Linked DNA regions of Homo sapiens: regions 2 and 3 are each linked to region 1. Evidence: fine-mapped expression QTL. Tissue or cell type: whole blood. Region 1 holds a variant in brackets; each other region holds the start of a gene. All regions are shown on one strand. Distances are between the middles of the regions.

Region 1 (2,680 bases):
TTGGGCCGGGCGTGGTGGCTCATGCCTGTAATCCCAGCACTTTCGGAGGACAAGGTGGGTGGATCATTTGAGGTCAGGAGTTCAAGACCTACCTGGCCAACATGGTGAAACCCCACCTCTACTGAAAATACAAAAATTAGCCGGGCATGGTGGCGAGTGCCTGTAGTCCCAGTTGCTTGGGAGGCTGAGGCAGGAGAATAGCTTGAACTCGGGAGGTGGTGGTTGCAGTGAGCCGAGATCATGCCACAGCACTCCAGCCTGAGCGATAGAGCAAGACTCTGTCTCAGAAAAAAAAAAAAAAAATGTTGGCTGGGCATGGTGGCTCACGCCTTTAATCCCAGCACTTTAATCCCAACACTTTGGGAATCCAAAGTGAGAGGATCATTGGAGCCCAAGAGTTTGGGAGCAGCCTGGGCAACATAAGAAGACCCTGTCTCTACAAAAAATTTTAAAAAAATTAGTGGGGCGTGGTGGTGCATGCCTGTGGTCTCATGTACTCAGGAGGCTGAGGTGGGAGGATTGCTTGGACCCAAGAGGTTGAGGCTGCAGTGAGCTGTGATTGCGCCACTGCACTCCAGCCCAGGTAACAGCGAGATCTTGTCTCAAAATAAAAAATAAATAAGTAAATAAAATGTTAACATTGCTTATCACAAAATGATGGGGTTATGGGTTTTTTTCCCCTTCAGTTTCCAAATTTTCTGTAGCACACCTGTGCTATACTAAAATAGACCAATAGTTTTTGTGTGTGTGTGTGTGTGTGTGTGTTTTTCTTTGTTGAGACTTGGTCTGGCTCTGTCACCCAGGCTGGAGTACAGTGGTGCGATCTCGGCTCACTGCAACCTCCGCCTCCCAGGTTCAAGCAATTCTCTGCCTCAGCCTCCCAAGTAGCTGGGATTATAGGCGGCCACCACCACACCCGGCTATATTTTTTTGTATTTTTAGTAGAGACGGGGTTTCATCATGTTGGCCAGGCTGGTCTTGAACTCCTGACCTTGTGATCCACTTGCCTCAGCCTCCCAGAGTGCTGGGATTACAGGCATAACCCACCATGCCTGGCTGTTTTTTTTTTTTTTTTTAAATAGAGACGGGGTCCTACATTGCCTAGGCTTGTCTCGAACTCCAAAGTTCAAGTGATCTGCCTGCCTTGGCCTCTCAAAGTGCTGGGATTATAGGTATGAGCCACTGAACCTGGC[C/T]CCTAACCAATAGTGTTTTTATGTGGTCTTGCTCTGTCTCCCAGGCTAGAGTGCAGTGGACTGATCATAGGTCACTGCAGCCGAAACTCCTGGGCTCAAGTGACCCTCCCACCTCAGACTCCCAAGTAGCTAGGACTGCAGATGCATGCCACTGTGTCATGCTAATTTTGTTTTATTTTTTGAGACAAAATCTCGCCCTGTCACCCAGGCTGGAGTACAATGGCATGATCTTGGTTCATTGCAGCCTCCATCTCCCAGGTTCAAGTGATTCTCCTGTCTCAGCCTCCCAAGTAGCTGGGATTACAGGTGTGTGCCATTGGGTCTGGCTAATTACTGTATTTTTAGTAGAGACGGGGGTTTCACCATGTTGGCCAGGCTGGTCTTGAACTCCTGACCTCAGGTGATCCACCTGCCTCAACCTCCCAAAGTTCTGAGATTACAGGGGTGAGCCACCGCGCCCAGCCTGAGACACTGTTCTTATCTCACCGTCCTTTGTTCTAGTCCTGGAGGTTGCAGTGACCTGAGATCCCCATATTCTTGATTCTCCCCAAAGCATTCCGCCATCTCCCTAGCAGGATGTCCCGAGGTAGGTGTTGCTGGGTTCGCTCACGTTAGCTTCTCTTGCAGCGCAATGTCCCTGCTCTTCTCTCGATGCAACTCTATCGTCACAGTCAAGAAAAATAAGAGACACATGGCTGAGGTGAATGCATCCCCACTTAAGCACTTTGTCACTGCCAAGAAGAAGATCAATGGCATTTTTGAGCAGCTGGGGGCCTACATCCAGGAGAGCGCCACCTTCCTTGAAGGTAAGGGGGCACCGGCTCAGCCAGGCCCGCTCTTACCTGTTTAGATATTTAGCTAGTGGGATTTGCGGGTGGGGAGGTATATCTCTGCTCCCAGGGAAGTCATAACCAGATAGCCTTAGAAATGCTCTGCTCTTGAAATCATGTGGAATTGGAGTCTGGGGAGATGAGGCCAGGAAGACAAGGGAACTGCCATTTAGTAATTACTTTAAGAAGTCCACATGTTTTGTTTCATTTAATCATGAAAGATAGGTGAATCTTATCCCCATCTACAAGGCAAGCAAATTGAGGTTTGAGAGTTGTCCGATACCTTGTAAGTAATAGATCAGGGTTTTACCCAGGTGTCTCCAACTCCGGAGCCCACGTGTTTTCCTTTGCCTAGTTCTGGCTGCCATTAATACCAGGCACTGTTTGGGTGTCAGTGATCCCTGACCAGGGCGCCCTTTCTTTGATATTTTTAGATTGGTGACAGAACTATAGGAAACTCACGTCACCTATGCCTTTTCTACTAGTTACTAATTTGAGCCCAACCTCTAGTTCCTTGTCTATCAGCAGAGAAGGACTGGTTCCCAGGGCCCCGCTCGTCTGAGTGTCAACTCCAGCACTGGCTTCCTCAGGCTCCCTCTTTAGAAGGACACTTTGGCGCCAGGTCCTGAGATTGTCTGTGGAGACCCAGTAACTGAG
Region 2 (2,680 bases), 54 kb before region 1:
GCACTTTGGGAGGCCAAGGCGGGTGGATCATCTGAGGGTGGGAGTTCAAGACCAGCCTGACCAACATGGAGAAACCCCACCTCTACTAAAAATACAAAATTAGCTGGGCATGGTGGCACATGCCTGTAATCCCAGCTACTCGGGAGGCTGAGGCAGGAGAATTGCTTGAACCCGGGAGGCGGAGGTTGCCGTGACCCCAGATCTCGCCGTTGCACTCCAGCCTGGGCAACAAGAGTGAAACTCTGTCTCAAAAAAAAGGTAGAAAAATTAGCCAGGGATGGTGGCTCAGGCCTGTGATCCCACCTACTTGGGAGGCTGAGATGGGAGGATCGCTTGAGCCCGGGAGGTCGAGGCTGCAGCAAGCGGTGATCACGCCACTGCACTCCAGCCTGGGCAACTGAAAGCAACCTTGTCTCAAAAAAATGAAAAAAAAAAAACAAAAAACAAAAAAACCTCAGAAGCAAGACTTTCCTTGGCTCAGAGGTTTGCCTCCCAGGGACACAAAGGGAGATCAAGTGATTGCCTTTTGGGGAGAGTGGAGACGGGCTTCCTGCATTTCCAGTGCCTGGGTGGGCCACGTAGGGGTGTCCGTGTCTCTGAACGCATCCGTGCCCACCCTCACCCCTTGGGTTTTGGGAAGGACTAATGAAATCATGAAAACTGACTTCCTTGGGGCTTGACCTGGGGCTGCTCTAAGTGCGCTACAGGTAACGCCATTAACCCGTGCAAGACCCAATGAACAGACGCTATCATAAGCCCCACTTTTCAGGCGAGCAAACAGGGGCTCGTGGCTATCGATGCCATGGAGCCTTGGCCCAGAACCTGGGGTCTAGAAATCGTGGCCTCTCTCTCCTCTCACCGCCCTCTTTCTGGTCGGAGTGAACCCCCCAGAGAAGGGAGGGAGACGGCAGGGCCTGACGGAAGCCCCGGGAGCTGCACAGAGAGGCGGAGGGAGCTGCCCTAATAAGGAGAGGCCCGGACTTGGGCATATCTGCAGAAAAACCCTTCCCCACTAGGCAGGCGCGGGGGAGGGCGTGGAGGGGCGGGGTGGTGCCGCCCCCGGGGCGGGCCCAGTGCGTGGCAGCGGGACCTGCGGCCCCGTCGCGAAGTTTCCAGCCCTGCGAGCGCCGCCGGGTCGGCCGATCGTCCCCCATACCTCGGCCATGCGGCCCCTGCTGCTACTGGCCCTGCTGGGCTGGCTGCTGCTGGCCGAAGCGAAGGGCGACGCCAAGCCGGAGGGTGAGGGAGCGAAGGCCGGGGGCGGGAGCGCGGATCCGGGCGGGAGGGCTGGTGTCGGGCTGCCTCCCTGGGAACGACCTGAATGGGAGGCCTGGGCTGGAGAGGGAGTCTGGGTTCCGGCTCCTTGTCCACTTAATCGCTGGTGACTTGAACAAATCACTTCCCCTCTTGGGGCTGCGGTTCCTGCTTCGGGAAGGAAAGGGTGACAGCTGAGTCCCATTCAGCACAGAAAGGCTCAAATAATAATAGTTTTCATAATAATAACCGACAATGGCTATTCTGCCCAGTGCTCACTATGGGCCAGGCATCAGTTAGGCATGATTGCTACCCTGGTAAGTGTTTCCTTCTATTATCCCCGTTTTCCAGCTGGGCAAACTGAGGCTCCAGAGTTCATTCACTTGCCCAAGATCATACAACTTGTGGGCCTTGGAACCAGGATTTACCCCACCCACCCAGGTGTCTGGTTCCAGAGCCAGGAGGCCTCATGACCATGGGAATGAGGGGTCTTGAGGGGGACAGGGGAGGAATGGGGGTAGAAGGTGTGGCTCACTTTGTGGATAAGTTTGTGCTTTCATCCATGTCCCCTGTGGTCTGCTTAGCCCCTGCCAGGGTGGTCTTCCTCTCTGCAGTTTATTTTTTTTATTTTACTTAATGTATTATTTATTTAGTTATTTATTTATTTTTGAGACAGAGTCTTGCTCTGTCGCCCAGGCTGGAACGCAGTATGCGATCTCGGCTTACTGCAACCTCTGCCTCCCAGGTAAAAGCAATTCTTTTTTTTTTTTTTGAGATGGAGTCTCGCTCTGTCGCCCAGGCTGGAATGCAGTGGCACAATCTCAGCTCACTGCAACCTCCACCTCCCAGGTTCAAGTGTTTCTCCTGCCTCGGCCTCCCAAGTAGCTGGGATTACAGGCACGTGCCACCATGCCTAGCTAATTTTTGTATTTTTAGTTGAGATGGGGTTTCACCATGCTGGCCAGGCTGGTCTTGAACTTCTGACCTCTTGATCCGCTGGCCTCAGCCTCCCAAAATGTTTGGATTACAGGCGTGAGCCATCGCGCCCGGCCGGTTCAAGCGACTCCTGTACCTCAGCCTCCCAGGTAGGTGGGATCACAGACATGTGCCACCATGCCCAGCTAATTTTTGTATTTTTGGTGGAGATGGGGTTTCACCATGTTGGCCAGGCTGGTCTTGAACTCTTGACCTCAGGTGATCAGCCCACCTTGGTCTCCCAAAGTGTTGGGATTACAGGCGTGAGCCACCACACCTGGCCCTCTCTGCAGTTTATACTTGAGGAAACTGAGGCCCAGACAGGTGAAGTGACTGTCCAGGGTGGTCCAGACAGAGGTGGTTGGTCCGAGGTCAGCTGGGCTCCAGTCTAGCGCTCTTTCTACTTCCTCAAGGCAGATTGGATTGCAGTGTGTGCCCCACTGTCCTGAGT
Region 3 (2,680 bases), 62 kb before region 1:
GAATTGACCTTTACACTCAATTGTCCACTACAGTCTCATAAAAACCTTCTGAGGTAGGCGTTATTGTTATTAAATACAGGCCCAGAGAGATTAGGCGACGAATCCAAAGGTCGCACAGACACTAAGCAGTTGAGCAGATTCAACCACTGGTGAAACGCCAAGCCCAAGTTTCAACCACCCCACCATCACCTTCAGTGTCACCTCTGCAGACTTGGGAGGGACATATCTAGGGTGGACCAAGCGCTGGCCAGGACTCACCTGGGCTGAAGAGCTGAGCCCAGAGGAGCTGGTGGTCTTGAAGCAGCTCCGCCGCTGGCATGTCCAAGAGCTCCAGCATTTCCTTCCGTGCCAAGTCCTGCAGCGCCTTGAGCTCCTTGGCTGCTTTGCTTTTGAGCACCTGGGGGTTAATGGGGCCAGAGACGTGCACCACCCACAGCACCGTCTCATCCAGCTGCGTCTTGGGAGCCACTTGGAGGCGGTTCACCAGCTTCTTGGCGGCCACCACCACCAGGTGCACCAACCCAGTGGGCGTAGGCGGGGACCGGCCTGAGTAGAGGAGGAACTGATGGTCTCCGACCTTCTCCAGGGTACTGGTGAAGGCCTTGGGGGCTGGGCCGGCAGTGGGCCCCACAGTCTGCAGCGCGGCCACGCGCTCCGTGGGGTTGTTGAGCTGGATGCGCTGCAGGTAGACGTGGGGTCGGCCCCTGTGCGCCAGAAAGTCCTCTTGCAGCAGCACGCAGTCGCGGCCGGACCCCGCGGCAAGGCCAGAGACGGAGGCGGGCCCGGGGCCGGCGGCCACGGGGCCAGGACCTGGGGACCCCAGCTGCAGGCAACGCACGCGGCGCAGAAGCCCCTCCCGCAGCAGCAGCACCGCCTCTCCAGCTTCAGCCAGCGCGCTCAGCGGGCGCAGCTGCACGAAGGGCACAAAGTCCGGCGCCACGGCGGGCTCCCGCTCCCCGGGAGTCACCCACAGCCGATTGGCAGCCACGTCCAGGGCCAGGAAGCCGTTGGCCACCAGGGCCGGCACTCCAGGACCCAGCGGTACCACCTCACCGCGCTCCCGCAGGCCGCGCCAGGCGCGGGTGGCCGCCTCCAGGCAGGCAGACGGCTCGGCGGCGCCCGGCTCACCGCGGGACCAGGGCAGCAGGTGCAGGCCGCCCGCCGCCCGCCGCGCGCCGGACCCCCCAAACCACAGAAGCAGCAGCAGGAGGCCAAGCAGGCAGAGGAGGCGGCGGGCCCAGCTGCTCGACAGCAGTCCCGGCAGCCCCTTGAGCCGCTGCTGCAGCCACATCGGGCCGCCAGGCGCGGGCAAGGGTGCGAGGGCGGCCGCCGGGCCCGCCGCCCAGCCCACCGGCCCGGCCGCCCGCGCCTCACTGCCCGGCCCGGACCGCGGCGCCCACCCCGGCCCCCGCCGCAACCGCCGCAGCAGCCGCCACCCCTGCTTCCTCCTTCTTCTCGGTGGCCTCCAGCCGTCAAACGACGCCGGCGGTCAAGCGTCGCCGTGTCTTTTACGACAGATGGAAAACGGGAGGGCGGAGGGAGGAGAGAGAGCAGGCCGGAGAGAAGGGGGCGGAGCCACGGCGAGGGCGGGACAAAAGCTGCCGGGGGCGGGACCACTCGTTCCCAGGCCGGAAGAGTGAAGTCCAGTGGAGTTAAGTGCAGGGGTCTGGGGAGGACTGGAAGCATCCAATTCACTCGTGAAAAAAACATCGAGCCAGCCAAACCGAACACGTGTTGGGCCCCTTTGCTACTGATGGATTCAACAGCCCCAAAATTTAAAAACATACACACACACACACACAACAACTTTGTTTCTGTAAAAATGACCATCCTCTCGCCGCGCGCGGTGGCTCACGCCTGTAATCCCAGCACTTTGGGAGGCCAAGGCGGGCGGATCACGAGGTCAGCAGTTTGAGACCAGCCTGACCAACATGGTGAAACCCCATCTCTACTAAAAATACAAAAACTAGCCGGGCGTGGTGGCGCATGCCTGTAATCCCTGCTCCTCAGGAGGCTGAGGTAGGAGAACTGCTTGAACCCGTGAGGCGGAGGTTGCAGGCTTGCAGTGAGCCGAGATCACGCCACTGCACTCCAGCCTGGGCGACAGAGTGAGACTCTGTCTCAAAAAAAAAAAAAAAAAAAAAGACTATCCTCACTGCAAAAAAACACTTGGAACAATACGAAAAAGTGGAGGAAAAAAAAAGGAGAGAGAAGAAGAGGAAGAAAGAAGAAGAAAGGAAAAGGGAGGAGGAGGGGAAGGGGAACCACCAGAGGCCAGGAGTGGTGGCTCACGTCTGTAATTCCAGCACTTTAGGAGGCTGAGATGGGCAAATCACTTGAGGTCAGGAGTTCGAAACCAGCCTGACCAACATGGTGAAAACCTGTCTCTACTAAAAATACAAAAATTAGGCTGGGCACGGTGGCTCACGCCTGTAATCCCAGCATTTTGGGAGGCCGAGGCCGCCAGATCACGAGATCAGGAGATCGAGACCATCCTGGCTAACACGGTGAAACCCTGTCTCTACTAAAAATATAAAAAATTAGCCAGGCGTGGTGGCAGGCGCCTGTAGTCCCAGCTACTCGGGAGGCTGAGGCAGGAGAATGGCGTGAACCCGGGAGGCGGTGCTTGCAGTGAGCCAAGATCGCGCCACTGCACTCCAGCCTGGGTGACAGAGGGAGA

What was found. PIP is the estimated chance that this variant, and not a neighbour inherited with it, causes the effect.
Region 2: PLOD1 starts here. The variant in region 1 is fine-mapped to the expression of PLOD1 in whole blood (INTERVAL, PIP above 0.99). The same link has a PIP of 0.9 or more in neutrophils.
Region 3: KIAA2013 starts here. The variant in region 1 is fine-mapped to the expression of KIAA2013 in whole blood (INTERVAL, PIP above 0.99).

What each region holds. Positions count from the first base shown.
Region 1 is chr1:11,987,345-11,990,024 of GRCh38, forward strand. It overlaps MFN2 (mitofusin 2), which reads left to right. Exons shown (of 19, transcript NM_014874.4): 3 at 1,821-1,999. The coding sequence starts at 1,825. Among named protein-coding and RNA genes, the nearest start is that of MFN2, 8.2 kb to the left of the region's middle. The variant C/T (reference allele first, on the strand shown) is at 1,194.
Region 2 is chr1:11,933,617-11,936,296 of GRCh38, forward strand. It overlaps PLOD1 (procollagen-lysine,2-oxoglutarate 5-dioxygenase 1), which reads left to right and starts at 1,101. Exons shown (of 19, transcript NM_000302.4): 1 at 1,101-1,239. The coding sequence starts at 1,164. RefSeq lists enhancers at 1-809, 640-689, 810-1,733 and a silencer at 910-1,379.
Region 3 is chr1:11,924,947-11,927,626 of GRCh38, forward strand. KIAA2013 reads right to left here and starts at 1,481. Exons shown (of 3, transcript NM_138346.3): 1 at 259-1,481. The coding sequence starts at 1,291. RefSeq lists enhancers at 425-1,087, 1,088-1,751, 1,406-1,700 and a silencer at 1,336-1,405.